Homo sapiens: one gene and its partners. The protein of the gene in region 3 purifies or fractionates together with the protein of the main gene of each other region. This does not show direct contact. Each region holds a gene or a part of one and is shown on either strand. Other genes may lie near its edges.

What was found.
Region 1: the proteins of MECR (region 3) and DNPEP fractionate together in Homo sapiens (co-fractionation; one large-scale study listed by BioGRID). This does not show direct contact.
Region 2: the proteins of MECR (region 3) and SNX30 purify together in Homo sapiens (affinity purification with mass spectrometry; one large-scale study listed by BioGRID and IntAct). This does not show direct contact.
Region 4: the proteins of MECR (region 3) and SNX4 purify together in Homo sapiens (affinity purification with mass spectrometry; one large-scale study listed by BioGRID and IntAct). This does not show direct contact.

What each region holds. Positions count from the first base shown.
Region 1 is NC_000002.12:219,377,119-219,382,412, forward strand, and holds part of DNPEP (aspartyl aminopeptidase), read right to left. Parts: intron 5,022-5,294; coding exon 4,861-5,021; intron 4,467-4,860; coding exon 4,427-4,466; intron 4,319-4,426; coding exon 4,217-4,318; intron 1-4,216.
Region 2 is NC_000009.12:112,829,760-112,835,053, forward strand, and holds part of SNX30 (sorting nexin-30), read left to right. Parts: intron 1-965; coding exon 966-1,124; intron 1,125-5,294. UniProt on the Homo sapiens protein: Involved in the regulation of endocytosis and in several stages of intracellular trafficking. Together with SNX4, involved in autophagosome assembly.
Region 3 is NC_000001.11:29,199,123-29,204,416, forward strand, and holds part of MECR (enoyl-[acyl-carrier-protein] reductase, mitochondrial), read right to left. Parts: intron 4,112-5,294; coding exon 4,009-4,111; intron 2,924-4,008; coding exon 2,821-2,923; intron 2,397-2,820; coding exon of another isoform or gene 2,252-2,396; intron 1,468-2,251; coding exon 1,394-1,467; exon of another isoform or gene 1,288-1,393; intron 1-1,287. UniProt on the Homo sapiens protein: Catalyzes the NADPH-dependent reduction of trans-2-enoyl thioesters in mitochondrial fatty acid synthesis (fatty acid synthesis type II).
Region 4 is NC_000003.12:125,498,909-125,504,202, forward strand, and holds part of SNX4 (sorting nexin-4), read right to left. Parts: intron 1-5,294. UniProt on the Homo sapiens protein: Involved in the regulation of endocytosis and in several stages of intracellular trafficking. Plays a role in recycling endocytosed transferrin receptor and prevent its degradation.

The DNA.
Region 1 (5,294 bases), on a different chromosome or scaffold from region 3:
CAAAAATTAGCTGGGCATCGTGGTGCACACTTGTAATCCCAGCTACTTTGGAGGCTGAGACAGAAGGATCACTTGAACCAGGGAGGCGGAGGTTGCAATGAGCCGAGATCACGCCATTAGACTCCAGCCTGGGCGACAGAGTGAAACTCTCACTCTGTCAAAAAAAAAAAAAAAAAAAAAAAAAAAAGTTTAACTTGAATCCATCAAGTCTTTAGAAATTCCAGTTGATAGGAAATACGGGGCTTACAGACAAGCTAAATGACACCATGGGGCAGCAAGGAGACATATCCAGAAGTTTCTTGAATAAGCCAATGCTATTTAAAAAGGGGTGGGGGGAACTGTGCTACACTGGAAGACATTTAAGCAACATATCAGCCAAATATAACGCATTGTCCTGAGTTGGATACTAGGGTGGGCCAAATACCTGTAAAAAAAATATTTTGAGGATAACTGGGGAAAACGGAAAGTGATCTGTGCATTAGATGAGGTACAAGTTTACTGAAACAACAATTTCCTGAAATGGGGTTGGGAATGGTGGCTCATGCCTGTAATCCTAGCACTTTGGGAGGCCAAGGTGGGAGGACTGCTTGAAGCCAGGAGTTCAAGACCAGCCTGGGCAACATAGCAAGAACCCCATTTTTACTAAAAATAGAAAATTAGCCAGCATGGTGGCATGCATCTGTAGTCCCAGCTACTTGGGAGACTGAGGCAGGAAGATCTTCTGAGCTCAGGAGTTTGAGGGTGCAGTGAGCTATGATCATGCCACTGCACTCCAGCCTGGGAGACAAAGCAAGACCCTGTTTCTAATTTTAAAAAAACATTAAAAAAAAAAACCAAACTCAAATAGAAAGGTGAAGATGACTGAGTGAAAAGAGGCAACAAAAATATATCCAATATAATATCATTTTAAAAAAGTGTATATGAAGTTTATGCATAGAAAAAAATCTGGAAGACTATACCAAATTTCTGCAGATTAGTGTTTTATTTTCTCATCTCTATCTGTATTTTCTAATTTTCTAAAATACATGTGTCCTACTTCTGCTGTAAATTATTAAAGAAAAATCTCCCAATGTCTTCTCACTGCCTTAGAATAAAATTGAAATGTCCTTCCATGGCCTAGGTATTCCTGTATCATCACTGAGCTGGGCCTCTCCCCTAACCCTCTCCTGCTCTCATCCTGGCTCTACCATCCTGCCTTTCTCTCCTCCTAAAAGACGAGCTCATTCCTGGCCCCCCTTGGGGCCTTTCTACTTGTGCCCTCTGGCTGGGACCCTCCCATAGCTGCCTATTTCTCAGTGGTTAGGTCTCAGCTCAAATATCACGTCCTCAGAGAAGGCTTCCTGGGGGCAGAACAATTCAGCTTTCCGAAAGGAAGAGTGAACACTGTGCAGCAGAAAGAGCCCTGGGCTGGGAGTCAGGATACCACGGTTCTACACCTGCTATGATTGTCACTGGACCGCCCATGCCTGAGTCCCTGATATAGAGAGGTAGACAGATAAATATAGAAATAGACAGTCATGCACTACATGGTGACATTTCAGTCAAAGATAGACTACATATGACAGTGGTCCCGTAAGATTATAATGGAGCTGAAAAATTCCTGTCGCCTAGTGACATCACAGCTGTTGCGATGTTGTGGCATAATGCATGACTCACTTGTTTGTGGCGATGCCGGCGTAAATAAATCTACTGCCAGTCGTATAAAAGCATAACACGTGCAATTATGTACAGTATGCAATACCTAAGAATAATAAATGACTATGTTATGGTTTATGTGTTTACTATATTATGCTTTTTATTGTTATTTATTTATTTTGAGATGGAGTTTCACTCTTGTCGCCCAGGCTGGAGTGCAATGGCACCATCTTGGCTCCCTGCAACCTCTGCCTCTTGGGTTCAAGCGATTCTCCTGTCTCAGCCTCCTGAGTAGCTGGGATTACAGGCGCACACCACCATGCCCAGATAATTTTTGTATTTTCAGTAGAGACGGGGTTTCACCATGTTGGCCAGCTGGTTTTGAACTCCTGACCTCAAGTGATCCACCCGCCTCGGCCTCCCAAAGTGCTGGGATTACAGGCATGAGCCACGATGCCCAGCCTACTGTTATTTTAGAATGTACTCCTACTTATTAGAAAAAAAAAAAAAAGTTAACTGTAAAACAGCCTCAGGCAGGTCCTTTAGGAGCACATTGTTATCATGGTAGATAGCAGCTCCCTGCATGTCACTCTCCCTGAAGACCTTCCAGTGAGACAAGATGTGGAGGTGGAAGACAGGGACATTGATAATCCTGACCCTGTATAGGCCTAGGCTAATGTGTATGTTTGTGTCTTGGTTTTTAACCAAAAAGTTTAAAAATTTTAAAAATAACGAAAAATTTTAAAAATAGAAAAAAGCTTACAGAATAAGGATACAAAAAAGAAAATACTTTTGAATAGCTGTACTATGTGTTTGTGTTTTAAGCCAACTGTTGTTACAAAGGAGTCAAAAATTTTAAAAATGGAAGGTTATAAAGTAAAAAAGTTGGCCGGGTGCAGTGGCTCACACCTGTAATCCCAACACTTTGGGAGGCCGAGGCGGGCGGATCACAAGGTCAGGAGTTCGAGACCAGCCTGACCAACATGGTGAAACCCCGTCTCTACTAAAAATACAAAAATTAGCCAGGCATGGTGGTGCGTGCCTGTAATCCCAGCTATTCAGGAGGCTGAGGCAGAATCGCTTGAACCTGGGAGGCAGAGGTTGCAGTGAGCCGAGATCGTGCCACTGCACTCCAGCCTGGGTGACAGAGTGAGACTCCATCTCAAAAATAAATAAATAAATAAATAAATAAATAAAGTTAAAAAGTTACAGTAAACTAATTTATTGTTGAAGAAATACAATTTTCAAAATAAATGTAGTGTAGCCTAAGTGTCCGGCATTGATAAAGTCTGCAATAGTGTACAGTAATGTCCTAGGCCTTCACATTAACTCACCACTCACCCAGGGCAACTTCGAGTGCCGTAAGCTCCATTCCTAAGTGCCCTATACAGGTGGACCATTTTAAATCTTTTATACCATATGCTTCCTGTAACTTTTCTTTTTCTTTTCTTTTTTTTTTTTTTTTGGTTTTGTTTTTTTGGAGACAGGGTCTCACTCTGTCGCCCAGGCTGGAGTGCAATGGCACGATCTCGGCTCACTGCAACGTCCACCTCCCGGGCTCAAGAGATCCTTCCCAAGTAGGGAAGGCCTCCCAAGTAGCTGGGACTACAGGCATGCACCACTCCGCCTGCCTAATTTTTGTATTTTTTGGTAGGATGGGGTTTCACCATGTTGGCCAGGCTGGTTTTGAACTCCTGACCTCAAGTGATCTGCCTGTCTTGGCCTCCCAAAATGCTGGGATTACAGGTGTGAGCCAACACGCCTGGCCTTCTGTACCTTTTCTATGTTTAGATACACTGACCATTTTGTTACAGTTACCTACAGTTTTCAGCACAGTAAGAAGCCGTACAGGTTTGTAGCCTAGGAGCAATGGGCTACACCACACAACCTAGGTGTGCAGCAGGCTGTCCGTCTAGGTTTGTGTACATATACTCCATGATGCTCACACAATGACAAAATTGCCTAATGATGCCATTTCCCAGAATGTATCCCTGTTGTTAAGCAATGCATGACAGTATATATGTGTGTATATGTGTATACACAATACTGTCATGTGTTATATACATACATGTATACAACATATATATGTACACACACACACACACACACTGAGGAGAAAGGACTAGATGTCTAATTTCTCAGGCAAGAGAGAAAATGAGTAGTTGGAGTTCCATACTCCCCAGCCCTGAACTTTCCCTGTGGAAGCCCCCAGGGTGTGTAGGAGACACAGGGGAAGTGGGGGTGCTGCAGGGAAAGACAGGCCTACCATGTGCCAGGAGCACACTGTACCTTCAGTCTTCATAGAAATCCAGCAAAGTAGGCATCACTATCACCCCTATTCTACAGATGTGGAAACTGAGACTCAGAAAGGTTAGGAGACTAGTCCAAGGTCACACAGCTAGCACTGCAGCAGAGCCAGCATGGAATCCAGCTGTATCCAAAATCCCTGCTTTTCTCACTCTACTGGGACCCCCCTCCACTCAAGGCCATCTACCAGGTTCCCTGTTCATGGGGGGCCCATCTGTTTGTGCCCCCACCAAGCTCCCTCCATCACACCTTCCCAGGCAGGGCCCACCCTCACCTGCAGGGGGACCTTGACTTTGTTGGCCACCTCTCGGATCAGGGCCTCTGACACCGCGTTTGAAGCATAGCGTTGCTTGCTGTTCACCTTGATCACGGGGCCCTGGGGAGAGTCAAGGTGAGGCAGAGGTAATGACAGGCCCAAAGGGAATGAGTCGGCGCTCGGAACAGCCAGACCTCCAAGTCCCTAGGGAGAAATGGCACGTCTCACCTTGTGGAATAAAGGCCGGTGGTTCTCCTCATGCTTGTCCCTGTAAGAGACAGATAAGGGCCAGACATAGCAAACAGGAGCAGGCCTGTCGACACTCACCACCCTCCCATGGCAGACATCACTAATAGATCACCACTCTTTCCCGCCCAGCCCAGTGGGACTTCAGAGTCATTCCACACACAGGGTTCCGGGCAGCCTCTAGCAATAGATGGAAACAAGTTTGTAGACAAAGGTGTATTCCACACACCTGGGTTAGGCATTGCATGACTTTGACCAAGTTGGTCTCGCAGTAGTGAAAAGGAAGTGCCCGTGAACCTCCCGGCAGAATGAAGAAGGGAGAAAGGAAGAGGCTGGGGCCAAGGCAGAGCCTCAAGGCAGGTTATGCTTGGGTCTCCAGCTATGTGAAGACTGTGTGACTGGCACTAGAGACTCACAGGTAGTTGGGATGCACAGCATGGGCCATGTCTGCGCTGATCATGAAGGACTTGGGTATGGCTTCCTCGAAGGCTGTCGGGTGCTGGCACGAGGCTGAGATCCGCCGCAGCACCAGCTCTGTCAGCAGTGACTGTGCTCCCTGTGCACTCTCAGACCCCACCTGGCGACAGTAGAGTCCTGACTCTGGGAATCTGGGCTTAGGGGCCTGATCTTGGAAGCCAGTGAGAGGGGCCCATTGCCCAACTGGCCCAAAACCCCACTGAGTCACTGGGTGTTCTTAGCAACACCCCTAACCTGGGGTCGTCACTGAACACCAGACAGTGGGCTGAGACCAAACTAACTCACATTCTTAACAGTACTGGTGGGTTTCCTGCACTGCTCCCCTTCCTCCTCTCGTGACCCTCACATCTGGGGCTCAGCACAGGTGCCCCAC
Region 2 (5,294 bases), on a different chromosome or scaffold from region 3:
TTTTTTGTTTGTTTTGTTTTTGTTTTTTTTTAAGATTATGGCCATCTTAGCAGGTATGAAATGGCGTATCATGATGGTTTTACTGATGTTAAGCATCTTTTCATGTGCTTCTTAGCCATTTGGATATCTTCTTTAGAGAAATATCTATTAGATTTAGTTGCCTATTTTTTAAATGTACAATTTTAAAAATATTTCATAGCTCAAATATTTTAAAACATGTGCATAGCAGATACTTCTTTTCCCTGTGGTAGTAATAATGAAGAAGGCTTTTTAATCAAGCAGTTGATCAAACTACTATGGAAACAGATTAAAAGCTCAAAGATCCCTTGGTAGGCAGGTAGTTTTAAATTGCCCACAGTATTGACTCTAAGTCAGTATAATAGAGAAATGTATTTGAATAAGGGGAATAAAGGAAATTACGTTTTAAATAACTTTTGAGTATAAACCTAAACCAAAAAATTGGCCTATAAAAGGTATTTTTTTTAGATACATGAATTTACCTAATTTATTCATTCACCAAGTATGAATGGGGAATGAAGTACTGGGAGCAGAATCTTAAAATATTTAAATAAATTTTTATGTGGTTGATGCCTGCCTGCCTGCTTGCCTTCTTTCTTTTCTTTTTCTTTTTCTTCTTTTCTTTTCTTCTTGCCATAACTTTTCCATCATATCACGTGTACATCAAGCAATGTAAAAATTACTGTTGAATTTACTGGATAAATATCTACTTTTCTGTATTTCAGAGACTATAATTTAGTGTTTTATTCCTTGCATTATAAAATTGACAGGGTATTTACTCCATGTGTATTTTTCAGAAGTCTTTATATTAATGACTACATGAAGATCTGCCTGATTAAGAAATACTTTTCTTGGATAGAGGGGTAATAGAACTGTGTGCTAGCCTGGTTGTTTTTCCTTGCACCATCTCATCAATTACTCTGGTTTTTTTCTTCATGTCTTCATAGCCTCTTCCCGAGAAGTTTGTGGTAAAAGGTGTTGTGGATCGTTTTTCAGAAGAGTTTGTGGAGACCAGAAGAAAAGCTTTGGATAAATTTCTAAAAAGAATTACGGACCATCCTGTGCTGTCTTTCAATGAACACTTTAATATTTTCCTTACTGCTAAGGTAAGGGCAGAAATTTACATCCTCTTCGTCCATATTACCATTCTTGGGGCTCTTTCCTAAAAGCTGTTTTGAGCAGGACTCGGTCTCTACAAAAACTTTTAACAAATAGCCGAGTGTGATGTTGTGCGCCTGTAGTCCCAGCTACCTGGGAGGCTAAGGCAGGAGGTAGCTTGAGCCCAGGAGTTTGAGGCTTCAGTGAGCTATGATCGTGCCACTGCACTGCAGCCTGGGTGACAGAGTGAGACCCTATCTCTTTAAAAAAAAAAAAAAAAAAAGCGGTTTTGATCTTTCAGAAGCCACCTTCATGAGCAAATGGTTCACTGTAACAGGGTTGTCATAAAATTGGTCTTTTTTTGGGTGCCTGTGTCCATTAGCATGCTTTTTTGCATTAGCAAATCCATATAGATGGATTCTATGTTAGAATTTAGGAGATCTGTCCCCACCCCATCCGGGGCCCCACCCACTTGCAGCAGCAGAGGAAGTTAGAATATTTGCTCTGCCAAAAGCAGAGCTAAGTGTTTCCTTAAACACTTGGCAGTATTACTGGGTGAGGCCAGTCTGACCAACAATGGGCATGGAACAGAAGGAACATTTGAGTGTTTGGTGAGGGTTTTCTTCTTAAGGGCGCTTTGAGTGATTACTTGCAGCTGCATTTTACAGACAAGGAAACTCAAGTTCCAGGAGCTTGTCCTTGTTCAGGTAGCGTCACTAGGATCTCAAATTAGGTCTTTGTGGCTACTGAGGCCACACCGTCCCTGTGTATCAGACTGCCTGATTGTTACTTAACCTGCAACCATGTTCCTGTCAGGTGGACATTTGCCAGATAAAACATTTGGGTCCTACACAGTTGCCAGATTCTGTGTATTCAAACTCAAGTTGGTTGTCCACTGGCCTTTCTCTGCACTTCCCTGTTGGCAGAACTGGCCAGAAAACCTGAGGTGCTGTGCTCTCGCTGTCTGCAGAAATGGGGTCACATGCTCAGACCCTCCTGCTAGCTTCCCTCTAGTCCCATCTGTTTGGTTTCAGGTATCATATTCCCATGTTCAGGCCATATGTAACATGTTCCATGTTGGCAAGGGTATTGTGGTCCAGATACTTTCTAGTTTTTCAAATCTGCAAAATTGGGAAATAGCTATAGATAACATTAGGTGACATTAAAGACTTCGGAGAGTGTGCCGTTCTTCACTCAGTGGAAGCCGCATGACAGAGTCCTTTAGTTTTTATAACCTCAGTTGGCATTGAGCCTTATTGATGACATTCCAGTTCAGCATCTCTTTTTCCCAGAGGCTTTCCCCCCCTACAGGTTGGACAGGTACACTTTTTAAAACTAAGTATTTCCTGGCAAACTAAACCTCAGGTATAATTCCTTCAACTCATACTCAAAGTAGAATACATCCTATTCTCCAAAAGCACAACTCACTTTCTCCCCCAAGGTCCATTTTCCAGAAAGCCCTTAAGCACATTCATGTTTACTGAACAAAAAAGAAAAGGGAGGGAAAAGCTTGGACCCCTGGTTGTTAGGAATCTGTATGAAGAATAAGTAGGAAAGAGAGAGAGAGAGAGAGAGAGAGAGAGAGTGTGTGTGTGTGTGTGTGTGTGTGTGTGTGTGTGTGAGAGAGAGAGAGAGAGGAGATTTATCTATCTGTGGGCCAGGCAGTATGAAAATGACTTAAAAAATATAAGGTCCTTATATGAGAACACATGGACACAGGAAGGGGAACATCACACGCCGGGGACTGTTGTGGGGTTGGGGGAGGGGGGAGGGATAGCATTAGGAGATATACCTAATGCTAAATGACGAGTTAATGGGTGCAGCACACCAACATGGCACATGTATACACATGTAACAAATCTGCACGTTGTGCACATGTACCCTAAAACTTAAAGTATAATAATAAAAAATTTAAAAAAAATTAGAAAAAATATATATTATATATTAATATATAATAAATATATTAATATATAATATATAATAAATATAATATATATAAAATATCTATATATATAAGGTCCTTTACTGCCTTAATCAAAATCCGACTCCATATGAGTGAATACAGGAGAGGTGGCTTTAAACAGAACAAATTTTAGCCCTAATTCAGTATCGCTTGCTGAACAAAATGTGCTAAATGGCCTTATCTTTTCTTTAAAAATTTTTAAAATTGTGATAAAATACACCTAACATTTACTATCCTAACAATTTCTAAGTGTACAGTTCAGTAGTGTTAAGTATATTTAAATTAGTTATGCAGCTCATCTTCAGAACGTTTGCATCTTGCAGATCTGAAACTCTATGCCCATTAAATGGCAGCACCCTATTCCCCCTCTTCCAGCTGCCTCATTTTTTCCTTTAACATACCTTGAATAACTTGATCTTGTTCTGAGATGAGCCACTTACGTGTTCTGCCTTAGGGAATGCAGAGACGCTCTTCCTTTTCTTTGTGATCACATGAGTTTATCAACAAATTAGAAATGTCCTTAAGAAGAAGCCAAAAGGCTGTATGTAATGGCTCATGCCTGTAACACCCAGCGCTTTGGGAGGCCAAAGCAGGTAGACCACCTGAGCCCAGGAGTTCATGTTCAGTCTGGGCAACATGGTGAGACCCCATCTCTATATATTAAAAAGAAGCAGCAGCAGCAGCCAGTAGTAATACTGGGAGAAATGGGGACGCTCAATAGCAACTATATTCAAGTCAATATTTTCATCTTTGGCAGAGTGGGTACAGCAATCAGATGGATACTGCTGAATAACTTTATTCAACATGTAAATTAACTTGGTTAACGGGGACACGCTTTCAAAGCTCTACTTGAAGCGGAGCCTGTGCAGTCCAGCGAGCCCATTTGACTCTAGTCCCACTCGTAAAAACGCTGTCTGCAGAGGTAATTCCAAGAACTCTGAGGCTTCAGTTATAGTCTTGTGAAGGCCTTGTGCCTTTGAGGATGTTTCTTGTCTAGAATGTGGGAGGTCAGAAGGGGAGATGGAATCTTTAGGACACTCTCTCAGGCAGCCTGACTCTGAAGGAAACGAGAGAGGTGGAGAGGAACTAGAGGAGATTGCTGCTGTTTTTAAGATGGGTCAGCCTTGGGTGTATTTTACATGCTGAAGGATTAGAAGTTGAAGATACAGACAGGAGAGGGGATAATTGGTAGGGCAAGGCCCTCGGTTGGGGGAAGGTATGGATAGGTGTTCCAGAAAAACTCTCAAACCATGGTTTTCCTCTGCTCTCAGGCAACAACAGTTGTCATCAACACAGGAGAAGACTTCTGTGACCAAATTGCGGGGTGGGGGTGGGGGCGAGATTTTCCCCAAACACCAAGCAGCCATTGCCAGCTGGATGTCCACCAGTTTAATTTGCACATTATTTGCCTGGACATAGCATCAGATCCCACAGGTTGAGGACTCAGTCCTCAAGTCTGAGAGCTTCCAGATCTCGGACCTTAAGTTCAAGCCTCCAAAACTTCTGACCAGCCAGCTTCAAGTTGGGCTTCCCGTGACCTCTTCTTTGGGTTCCATTAATTTGCTAGAGCAATTCACAGAACTCAGAGAAACACATTTACCAGTTTATTATAAATGATATCACAAAGGATACAGATGAAGAGTTGCATTGGGCGAGGCGTGGGGGAAGGGGCGTGGAACTTCCATGCCCTCCCTGGGTGTAGCACCCTTCAGGAAACTCCACATGTTCAGCTCTCCAGAAGTTCTCTAAACCCAGCTCTCTTGGGTTTTTGTGGAAGCTTCGTGACAGCAGCATTCCATCCTCCAGGGTGTAGGGAGGGACCTTAGTCAGAAAGGCTGGGGAAGATTCGAGTCCTGCCTTGGGGCAGGTGAAAGGAGGGCAGGGGAAGGACAGAGAGATTCTGTTTCCTGAGGCTTAACACACCCAACATTATAGTGAAAAGACTGGAACAAGGTCTGTGGAGGTTATGAGCCAGGAACCGTGGATTAAACACACACACACACAAACACACACACACACACACACACACACACACACACACACACCTACCTCAATAGGAAAGGCTGGATCAAGAGCAAAAATGAAGGCCTAAAGAAGGAAGCGAAGAAGGAAGTGAATTCACGAGGTGCCTACACTCAGATACTATAGAGACCTCAGCCTGAAATTGTACATCAAATGCGGAGGGGCTGTTGGGCCATGTTAGCCGCACATTCCA
Region 3 (5,294 bases):
AGCTAGTAAGTGCTCAGCAAGTATGCGCTAGCTGAATCCGTACTATTGAGGGGGTTCCTGCTTTAATTAGGAAGTGTCTTTTTACACACACTCTAGCTCAAGAAGCTTTTATTTTTATTTTTTGAGACGGAGTCTCCCTCTGTCGCCCAGGCTGGAGTGCAGTGGCGCAATCTCGGCCCACCGCAAGCTCTGCCTCCGGGGTTCACGCCATTCTCCTGCCTCAGACTCCTGAGCAGCTGGGACTACAGGTGCCCGCCACCACACCTGGCTAATTTTTTGTATTTTTAGTAGACACGGGGTTTCACCGTGTTAGCCAGGATGGTCTCGATCTCCTGATCTCGTGATCTGCCCGCCTCAGCCTCCCAAAGTGCTGGGATTATAGGCTTGAGCCACTGCGCCCGGCCTAGAAGCTTATATTAAGGGAAAGAAGAATGGAAGGACATGCATTAATATTGTCAACAGGGCTTATCCCCCTTGGTAGTGGGGTGATAGGTAACTTTTTTTTTTCTTTTTTGAGATGGAATCTCCCTTTGTCACCCAGGCTGGAGTAGAGTGGTGTGATCTCGGCTCACTGCAACCTCCACCTCCTGGATTCAAATGATTCTCGTGACTCAGCCTCCCAAGTAGCTGGGATTACAGGTGCCTGCCACCACACCTGGCTAGTCTTTTTGTATTTTTAGTAGAGATGGAGTTTTGCCATGTTGGCCAGGCTGGTCTTAAACTCCTGGCCTCAAGTGATCTGCCTGTCTTGTTGGGATTACAAGCATGAACCACTATGCCTGGCCAGGTAACTTAAAAAAAAAATTAATTTTTTTTTTTGTAGTGATGGGGTCTCACTATGTTACCCAGGCTGGTCTCGAACTCCTGGCCTCAAGTGATGCTTCCTCCTTGGCCTCCCAAATTACTGGGATTATAGGCATGAGCCACAGTGCCCAGCCAACAGGAAACTTTTATGCTTAAGTTTTCCTTTGCACTTTTACATGTTTTCAAAATGTTTTGTAATAAGCATAATGTTACCTTTAAAATTAGAATCTATTTTAAAAGCTAATACAAATTTTGAAAGGTTAAATAAGTTAGGACTAAGTGACTTTTTCAGACATCCCTAGGTTATAAATCCTTGACTATTCCTCTATGGCAGGCAGCTTAGCAGTCTACTTCTGGGGTCCCTTGGAAAAATAAAGCTGGATAGGCCAAAATTTTGGTCATCTGCAAAGGGGAAGGCTGAGAAACCAGTGCCCAAATAGCTGGATGACTTTGGTCCTAGTTTCCACTCAACATTGTGCTGACCTGGACTTGGCTCGAACTGGCGATGGGACTCAGTCACTTGATGGTCCTCCCAGCTAAAGACCTGGAGAGCTCTGGCGAGCTGGACCTGCAGGCCCAAGGGACTTACGCTAACTGCCGCAGCAGCTCTGTGGAGCTTTTCCCACCAACACAGTTGAGAGCAAGCCGTGGCTGGGGCATGTCCTGGAAAACAACAAAAGTGCAGTGAGGGAGCATCCCCGCTCTACATATGGGGTCTGAAGCTTGCCCAAGTGCTGTGTTAAAAGGAGGGAGTAAATGAGATGTTTATGCCTTTGTTTGCGTGCACGTACTTATGTATATGTGTGTGTGTTTATGCCTTTGAACTCACCTTTTTCTCTGCTTAGGAAGTGTCTTTTCTTTCTTTTTTCTTTTTCTTTCTAAGACAGGGTCTCGCTCTGTTACCCAGGCTGGAGTGCAGTGGTGCAATCATGGCTCACTGCTACCTTACCCTCCTGGGCTCAAGCAATCCTCCCACCTCAGCCTCCCAAGTAGCTGGGACTGCAGATGAGTATCATGATGACCAGATAATTAAAAAAAAATGTTTTTTTGTAGAGACAGAGGTCTCACTATGTTGCTCAGGCTAGTCTCAAACTCTCAGACTCAAGCAATCCGCCTGCCTTGGCCTCCCGAAGTGCTGGGATTACAGGCATGAGTCACCTCATCCAGCCAAGAAGGGCCTTTTCTGTAGCAACTTAATCCTGTTGTCCATTTTAGGACCTGGCAGAACTCATCTTCTCTGGGAAAGAATAGGCAAAGGGCATCTGCATGCAGTTTGGTGGGTTTCAGCTCCCTGTGTGCCCCCCTTTTCAGTTCTTTGACTCAGCTGATATTATATATGCTGATCTACTGCTTCAGAAATGTTCGCAAGAAGCGCATGCTCTTGAGTGTGTGTCTTTGGTTCCTCCAGATGGTTCAGTGAAAAGGGGCTGAGGGTCTGGTCACTTACTAGGCATGTTGTGGGGTGGAGGTTCTGGAAGGTTAAGAGGCTTTGAGTTCGGAGAGACTGAGGCCAGCTCTGACTCTCTGGAGCCCTTATAAACTATATGATTTTGGTTAAGCATTTCCTCTTTTCTGAGTCTTAGTTTCCTAATCTGTAAAACAGATAACAGTTCCTTTGAAAAGCTTTTGTGGAAATCATCAGATAAAATGTAAGGCAGGTGGTTGGGAAAGGTTACTTCTTTTCTTTCTCTTTCTGTGTCTCTGTTTCCTCAGGTCCTCTCCTGCCAGTTCTAAGAGTCACACATGTGGGCTGATGCGGCCCACCACAAACGTTTAAACTGCAAGTCATACTGGGTTTCCTAAACTCTGTTTCTCATGCCTCCCTCCCAGCATCTGGGCACTTAATGCGTGCTGCCTGCCGCCTGGCTAGGGGGAATGGGCTTTAACCAACCAAGAGGCAAAGGGAGGTTTCCAGAGAGGAACAATGGGGCCAGTCCCCAGTTTCTCTAATGCATGTCAACTTTCTTCAGGGAGATGTGCGTGGACTGGAGGGGCAATGTCCCTCTTCCTAGGTACCTTAAAGAAGTTTTTCATTTCGGGCCTTCTTAGCTCCTCTTCTGTGATGACATGCTCAGCCCCCAGACTCTTCAGTCTGTCACTCAGCTTCTGGATATCAGGTCTGGAAACCAAACATAGGTCCCTGGTCACATCTGCCAGCTTTTTCCACCAAAGCCCCCCAGGACCTCTCTGCCACAGCTGGGAGAACCCGTGCTTCTTTTTGCAGGAAGCTGGGATTAGGTTTAAGCCAGGCTTGAGCAGGGACCAGCCACCTAATTTCATGCAGCTTCAATAGCTCTTGGCTGTCTCCTCACTGGCAACAGAGTGAGACTGGGTGGTTTTCACAGGCCCTGACAGCTCAATAGTGTTAGAAGCCATCTGTGCCCAGGGAGAAGTCACTTAACTTCCTGATTTCTTCTACTGAAAGGACAAACTCCACTTCCCCCCTCTTTTCAAGTGGTTCTTCAGAGTGTTGGACATACACAGTCTAGACCAGGAGTGGCTCTGGGTCTCTTTGGTTAAGGCAAATGGAATTATTTTTGCGAGTACAACTGAGGAACTGAAGCTGGTGTCGATTATACTAAGAGTGGGCTTCCATGACAGCCACAGCCACATTCATGGACAGTGAGGCCTAGAGAAACTGGACGATATGATGGAAAGAGAGTAAGTGAGGAAACCGAGTCTATTACTGACTTGCTGTGTCTTCCAGGGCAAGCTGCTCCCTGAAACTTCAGTTTCCTCATCTGTAAAAGACAGATGACAAACCTGCCCCTGTCTCCTTCACGTCTGTATTTAGCGCACTTCCAAGTACCACACAAAAGCAAGGGTAAAGGGGCCTTGGGTTAGACAGTTCACAGAAAGAATAATACAGCTCAAATCATTCCCAAATATCAACTGGGGTTTTGAAAACATGAGGTTATCACAAGCCAAGAGTCTCAGAAAGTCTTAGCTATTCAGTAAGGGCAGTCTCCACCTCCTTCCTGCCCTCTCTTTACATGTCAGATTCACTCATCCTATCGCCAAAAGCCAGCTGGACTTCATTTCTTAGGACTGACTCATCTGTTTCAGCCGCCAACTGTTAGCGATGCCTAAAGCCAGTTTATGCTTATGCAAGGGCGCCCTCTGGTGGACAACTGGGCACCGCAGGGATGGGAGGTGGGAAAGACCCAAGACATGGTCTGGGATGAAGCCTCCTTCCCCACGCACCTGTCTCGGACCACATTGATGGTTCTTAGGCCCAGGGCTGCGGCGATCTGGATGACTGCTTGCCCCACTCCGCTGTTGGATGCATTCTGGATGACAGAATCCCCTGTGGAGCCAGGAAGAGAACCAAATCAAGCCCTGTATAGATCTGCAATAGGTCAAAGGCTCCCAGCCGGGGATCCTTCTGTAGGCAAGGGAGTCCTCAGGCTCAACAGGGACCCAGGACCTGGCTGCTGAGTCTTCTCAGACCTTCCACTGTTTCTCACTGTTCTCCTAATGCCTCCTAAACTTCCACAACACTCACGATGCCTCCCAGGACTTGGCAACTCAGCATCTACACTGGATATAATTTAGACCCTGCCCTGCTATGTAAAATATTTTATAGCCTTCGTCATCCTCCCAACTTTTATGTCCTCAAGTCTTTACTTAGGTTATTTCCTTGGTTTGCAATGTTTCCCTCCTTCTCTCTTCCTTCCTATTGAAATCCTGTAGATCCTTTGAAGCGCAGCTCAAGTGCAGCCTTCATGAAGCCTTCCTGGATTGTTCCCTCTATGTGCTCCCACAGTGCTCTGTGGGCATCTGTATTAATGCACATACCACGGTCTGCCCCATCTTACACTTCATTGTATATAGGTCCATTTCTATCAACAGCTTGCAGCTTCTTGAGAGGGAAGGGTCATGCCCTATTCCTCTCTGCAGTGTTTAATAAAGGTGCACTGCCTTGAAATGGGATTACAGCTGCGCTGGAGAAACTGGCAGCCCCTGAAACAGGGTCCTACAGTTCTGTGGCAAAGCCCAGGTTTAGCTTTGGACCTGGCCATTGGGGAAGGCGGTGTGACATGCTGGGAAAAATGTGGGCTCTGGAATGAGACAGATCTGGGCATGAGTCTCAGTTTCACCAATGATTGTAACTAAACAGACAGGGCAAGTCATGACCTCTGTGAACTTCAGTTTCCTTCCCTTAAAATATAATCCCAGCTACTAGGGAGGCTGAGGCAGGAGAATCGCTTGAACCCGGGAGGTGGAGGTTGCAGTGAGCTGAGATCGCGCCACTGTACTCCAGCCTGGGTGACAGAGCGAGACTCCCTCTATTAAAAAAAAAAAGTGCCCCCGATTAGAGTCAAATGCATCGTGTCCGGGAAAGTGCTTTGTTGAATTTGAAATGCTATCTGGTTTTTGAGAGGCAGCAGGGATCTGTCACACAACGGGCTGAAACTAGAGATAGAGGACTTCCTGGAAGAAGAATGCCCACTCGTCTTCACCAGGGGTCAACGTACAGGTTGTCACCC
Region 4 (5,294 bases), on a different chromosome or scaffold from region 3:
AATGAGAGAATAACATTCACAACAAAGACCAAGACACCACAAAAACTTCAATTTAGGTTATTAATAAATCAGATTAATCCAAGTACCAAGAAATATCCAAAAGAACAAAATATTAGTTAGCTCTGAAAGAGTGGCGAAGAGGGGTCATAAAAATTCATCTCCAGTCTTACTTTTAATTATAAAGGGCTGGTAGGCAATGCCATGTCTCATACATACAAAAGTTCAATTTACTTTTGGCAGAAAGTTAAGGTAAAATCATATAAAGGATATTTTAAATATTTTGACTACTTAGGATTTCTTGCCAGCATAAGTAAGACCTATTAGGAAGCACCAGTCTTCTAAACATTATCAGGACCTTGCTATTTTCTAATTTGCTTGACAATAACCTGTTTGCCCTCCATGAAATGCACAAGGTGTATTTGTACATTAGGACAAAAAGTCACAGAACTTAAATCAGTCTCCAAATAGTCTAGAGAAAGTATTTACATCATGCCATGCTCAGCACAATAGATGCTCATTTTTATCATTTTTTAAGTTTGCTACTAAATTTATTCATTGCATATTAATAAAAATGAACCAAAATATGAAATGCAAAATTCACAAATGGCTCCCATGGCAAAAAAATAGAATTATTAAATCATAATTCATTTTAAAGAGTATACCTAGACATTAGTTATAACTAATACTATCCCAATTACAATGCCCAACTTCAGCTGAAAAATACTTGGGTTAATCTCAAGTTTCAAATTATTCAAAATCACTACCAACAAAACCCAAAACTTGTAAATAAGTGGATAAATAAAGCCTATAAGCAGTACACCTACAGGGCTGATAGAAGGTCTGCATAAGTGTTTAAAAAAAAAAAAAAAAAAAAACGCGGTTGGATGCGGTGGCTCACGCCTGTAATCCCAGCACTTTGGGAGGTCAAGGTGGGTGGATCAGGAGTTTGAGACCAGCCTGGCGAACATGGTGAAACCCCGTCTCTACTAAAAATACAAAAAATTATCTGGGCGTGGTGGCAGGTGCCTGTAATCCCAGCTACCCAGGAGGCTGAGACAGGAGAATTGCTTGAACCCGGGAGGCAGAGGTTGCACTGAGCTGAGATCGCGCCAACGCACTCCAGCCTGGGCAACAAGAGCGAAACTCCATCTCAAGAAAAACAAACAAACACCAAAAAAAAAAACCCAAAAAGGCAGGGTCTAGTAGTTTCATTATAAACTGACTAAAAGCACAGAGAAGACTTTCATTAGACCCCAAAACTACCTCATTTATCTAATCACTCAACAACTATTCAATAGTACCTAAATGGTTTTACTTGTAATATTTAACCCCCACAATGAAAATATGATCATTAACCATGTTTTACAAATTAAAAGAATTAATAACATACTGCCTTCCAAGCCATCAAGGCATTACTACCTATTCTAAAAGAGACATATATTTATTTTAAAAGAGTTCCTATTCAATGAAGAAGAACACATACAAAAATCTCTTGGGGAATTAAAAACCAGGGACTTTAGTTTTATTCAATCTTAGCCCACTAAACTATAACACTATAGAATAGGCACATATCAAAAATATCCTGTTTAACTTTAAACTTAAGAATTTACTGGCCAGGCGCAGTGGCTCATGCCTGTAATCCCAGCACTTTGGGAGGCCGAGGAGGGTGGATCACGAGCTCAGAAGATCAAGACGATCCTGGCTAACACAGTGAAACCCCGTTTCTACTAAAAAATACAAAAAATTACCCAGGCGTGGTGTTGCGCGCCTGTAGTCCCAGCTACTCGGGAGGCTGAGGCAGAATGGTGTGAACCCCAGAGGGTGGAGGTTGCAATGAGCTGAGATCGTGCCACTGCACTCCAGCCTGGGCGACAGAGCAAGACTCCGTCTCAAAAAAAAAAAAAAAAAAAAAAAAAAAAGAATTTACTTTGGAAGCTAGAGTTAACACTAATTTTTAAAGTATTTTTTAGGTGGCTAATTTACAAAAAAAAAAAAAATTACAGAAACAAAACCCTCTCGACAATTGGACTACAGACAGTTGCTAAATGGGCTTTCTACTTGTATCCAGAAGGTAGGTAGGTAGGTAAGCTACATGACAGAAGTTGAATTTCTAGTTAACATGAAGGGTCAATAATATTCATATTGTCCACAACTGTCTGCAAAACACTGAATTACAGAAACAATACTACATAATTAAATTAAGAAATTTGATGATTGCGGTTGATGAAGGTCAGTTAACCTTAGGGATAGTATAAAACAATCTATTCAAAATCAGTATTTCTCAAATCCCATGTCTATATGATGTGGAGTAGGGAAGAATTTCTTAAAACAGAAAAAACATAAATCATAAAGAGAAAAGACAGATAAACCTGTCTTAAAATGGAAAGCCTTTGTAGTTTAAAAGACAACAATCAAAATCATGGTCCAGCTGGGCACATTGGCTCACACCTGTAATTCCAGCACTTTGGGAGGAGGCCAAGGCAGGCAGATCACCTGAGGTCAGGAGTTCAAGACCAGCCTGGCCAACATGGCAAAACCCCATCTCTACTAAAAATACAAAAATCAGCTGGGTGTGGTGGTGCAAGTCTGTAATCCCAGCTACTTGGGAAGCTGAGGTGGGAGAATCACTTGAACCTGGGAAGAGGAGGTTGCAGTGAGTCAAGATCATGTCACGGCATTCCAGCCTGGGTGACAGAGCGAGACTCCACCTTAAAAAAAAAAAAAAAGGTCCATCGCCCATCTGTACTGAAAGCAGCTGGACCTTTAAATAAAAAATGTAAAATCCTGGGCCCTACCCCAAATCCTGCAGTTGTTTAACCAATTTTTCAAGTAATTCCAACATGTTTTTAAGTATAAAATCCATGTTTTAAAATAAATTTATATTGAAATATAGTTGTGAAAGTTGACTCAATAATCCTTTTGTGTGCCACACATTTATTGATGATCTACTTAAATATGTATTCACAGTCTAGCTATTACTGATGTATGGTCACTTCTAACTCCCAGGTTCAAATTAGAACTGGGCTACAGAAGAAAACAATGATCCTTTATTTATTTCAAAGTCAAGTACAAACATTATTAAGTTATTCCAGATTATCCAAATCAAGGTTCTCTCCTAGCAGTAAAAGTAATCAATACCTATGTGGGTGAAAAAACAGGCATATACTAAATATATCCTTTTTCATTGTAAACTTAAAATTTACTTAGAAGGCTACAGCTAACACTGTTTTCTAAAGTATTATTTTTAAAGTGGCTAATTTAACTTAAAAAACAAAAAAACAGAAACAAAAATCCTCTCACAGGGCCATGATCTTTAAAAAATAACCTTACAAATCTCTGGGATACATAAACATACATATGTCATGAAATGACCTAAGTTTGAAAAGAACCACATTACCTCTCTCATTTCCTAAACTTCTTACTGTATAAAAATTTTCTTTCTTTTTTTTTTTTAGAAGATTCTTTTCTCTCTTTTTCTTTCTTTCTGGTAGAAGGAAAACTAAATTTTCAGAATTGTCTGTAGACAATCTTCACCAAGATTTAAACTTTTATTTTAGGCAGAAACACAGACCTGGAAGAAGCCTTGAAAAGTCACAGGGTTCAGCACTAAGGCAAGCTCACAGGTAAAGCCTATGAAAATGGTAGGTTAAAATTTTTTTTCTTAAAAAAGTATTAACATTGGCCGGATGCGGTGGCTCGTGCCTGTAATCCCAGCACTTTGGGAGGCCGAGGTGGGTGGATCACGAGGTCAGAAATTCGAGACCAGTCTGGCCAACATGGTGAAACCCCATCTCTACTAAAACTACATGGTGACGGGCGCCTGTAATACCAGCTACTTGGGAGGCTAAGGCAGGTGAATCACTTGAACTCGGGAGGCAGGGTTTGCAGTGAGCCGAGATCGCGCCACCGCACTCTAGCCTGGGTGACAGAGTGAGACTCCATCTCAAAAAAAAAAAAAAAAAAGTATTAACATTAAAACATTGTTATAACACTTAACTTGGTTTGGTAGTTTTTTTTTTTTTTCTTTTTTTGAGACAGCCTCTCGCTCTGTCACCCAGGCTGGAGTGCAGTGGCAATCTCAGCTTACTGCAATCTCCACCTCCCAGGTTCAAGTGATTCTCCTGCCTCAGCCTCCCGAGTAGCTGGGACTACCACACCTGGCTAATTTTCATATTTTTAGTAGAGACGGGGTTTCGCCATGTTGGCCAGGGTGGTCTCAAACTCCTGACCTCAGGTGATCTGCCTGCCTTGGCCTCCCAAAGTGCGGAGATTACAGGCATGAGCCACCACGCCCAGCTAGGTTTGGTAGTCTATAATTTTACCGGCTATCAACAATTCTCTCATATCTATTTGTTTTAATTGAAAGCATTTCTGCTCAATCTCTGCAGACAGAAAAGAAATAGTACACTATTCTTTATATAAATTGTTAATAACTGACAACAACAAATTGAGTCTTCCCTTGCCTTTCTTTAGACAAAACAACTCTAATTCCTTTAGCTTTTCCCTTAGGAGGTAAAAGACAACTTTTCTGGTGAGTTTTTATTTCCTACTCCATAATTTGTCTTTTCTATTTTTACTCACCAAGTTCTTTTTCTTTGTTTTTTAAAGGTGTCTACTTCCCTTTATTCTTAATTTACTCCAAGTTCTAAAGCACCAATCTCAATGTTTCTGTTTGTTAATTTTTTGTAACTCCCAACTGTCCTAAGAGGATTCAGACCTTATTCTCTACTCCTAGAATTCTTTGTTAACCATTTCCACCTGCCCAAGTTCACTTCTACATGCCAGAGAACCTGGTATTCTTTTACAGAATTGCACAGGGATTCTAAGACCAAGGAATCCTCCAAAGCATGTATCGTTATTTGATACATGTTATTTATTCCAGATTCCAAAAGTATTCCACTAACCTCCCCTCTCCCCACAAAATAAATTCATTAAAATATAGCTATCTACCAAGAGTATCACAGCAAAAGATACAGCTGTTTACCCATTAAAAGATAAAGACACAGGGCTGGATGCAGTGGCTCACACGAGTAATCCCAGCATTTTGGGAGGCTGAGGCAGGAGTATCACTTGAGCCCAGGAGTTTGAGACCAGACTGAGCAACAGAGTGAGACCCCATCTCTACAAAAAATTTTAAAACTGCCAGACACAGTGGCTCACACTTGTAATCCGAACACTTTGGGAGGCCGAGGCGGGTGGATCGTTTGAGATCAGGAGTTTGAGACCAGCCTGACCAACACGGTGAAACCCTGTCTCTACTAAAAACACAAAAAAATTAGCTGGGTGTGGTAGCA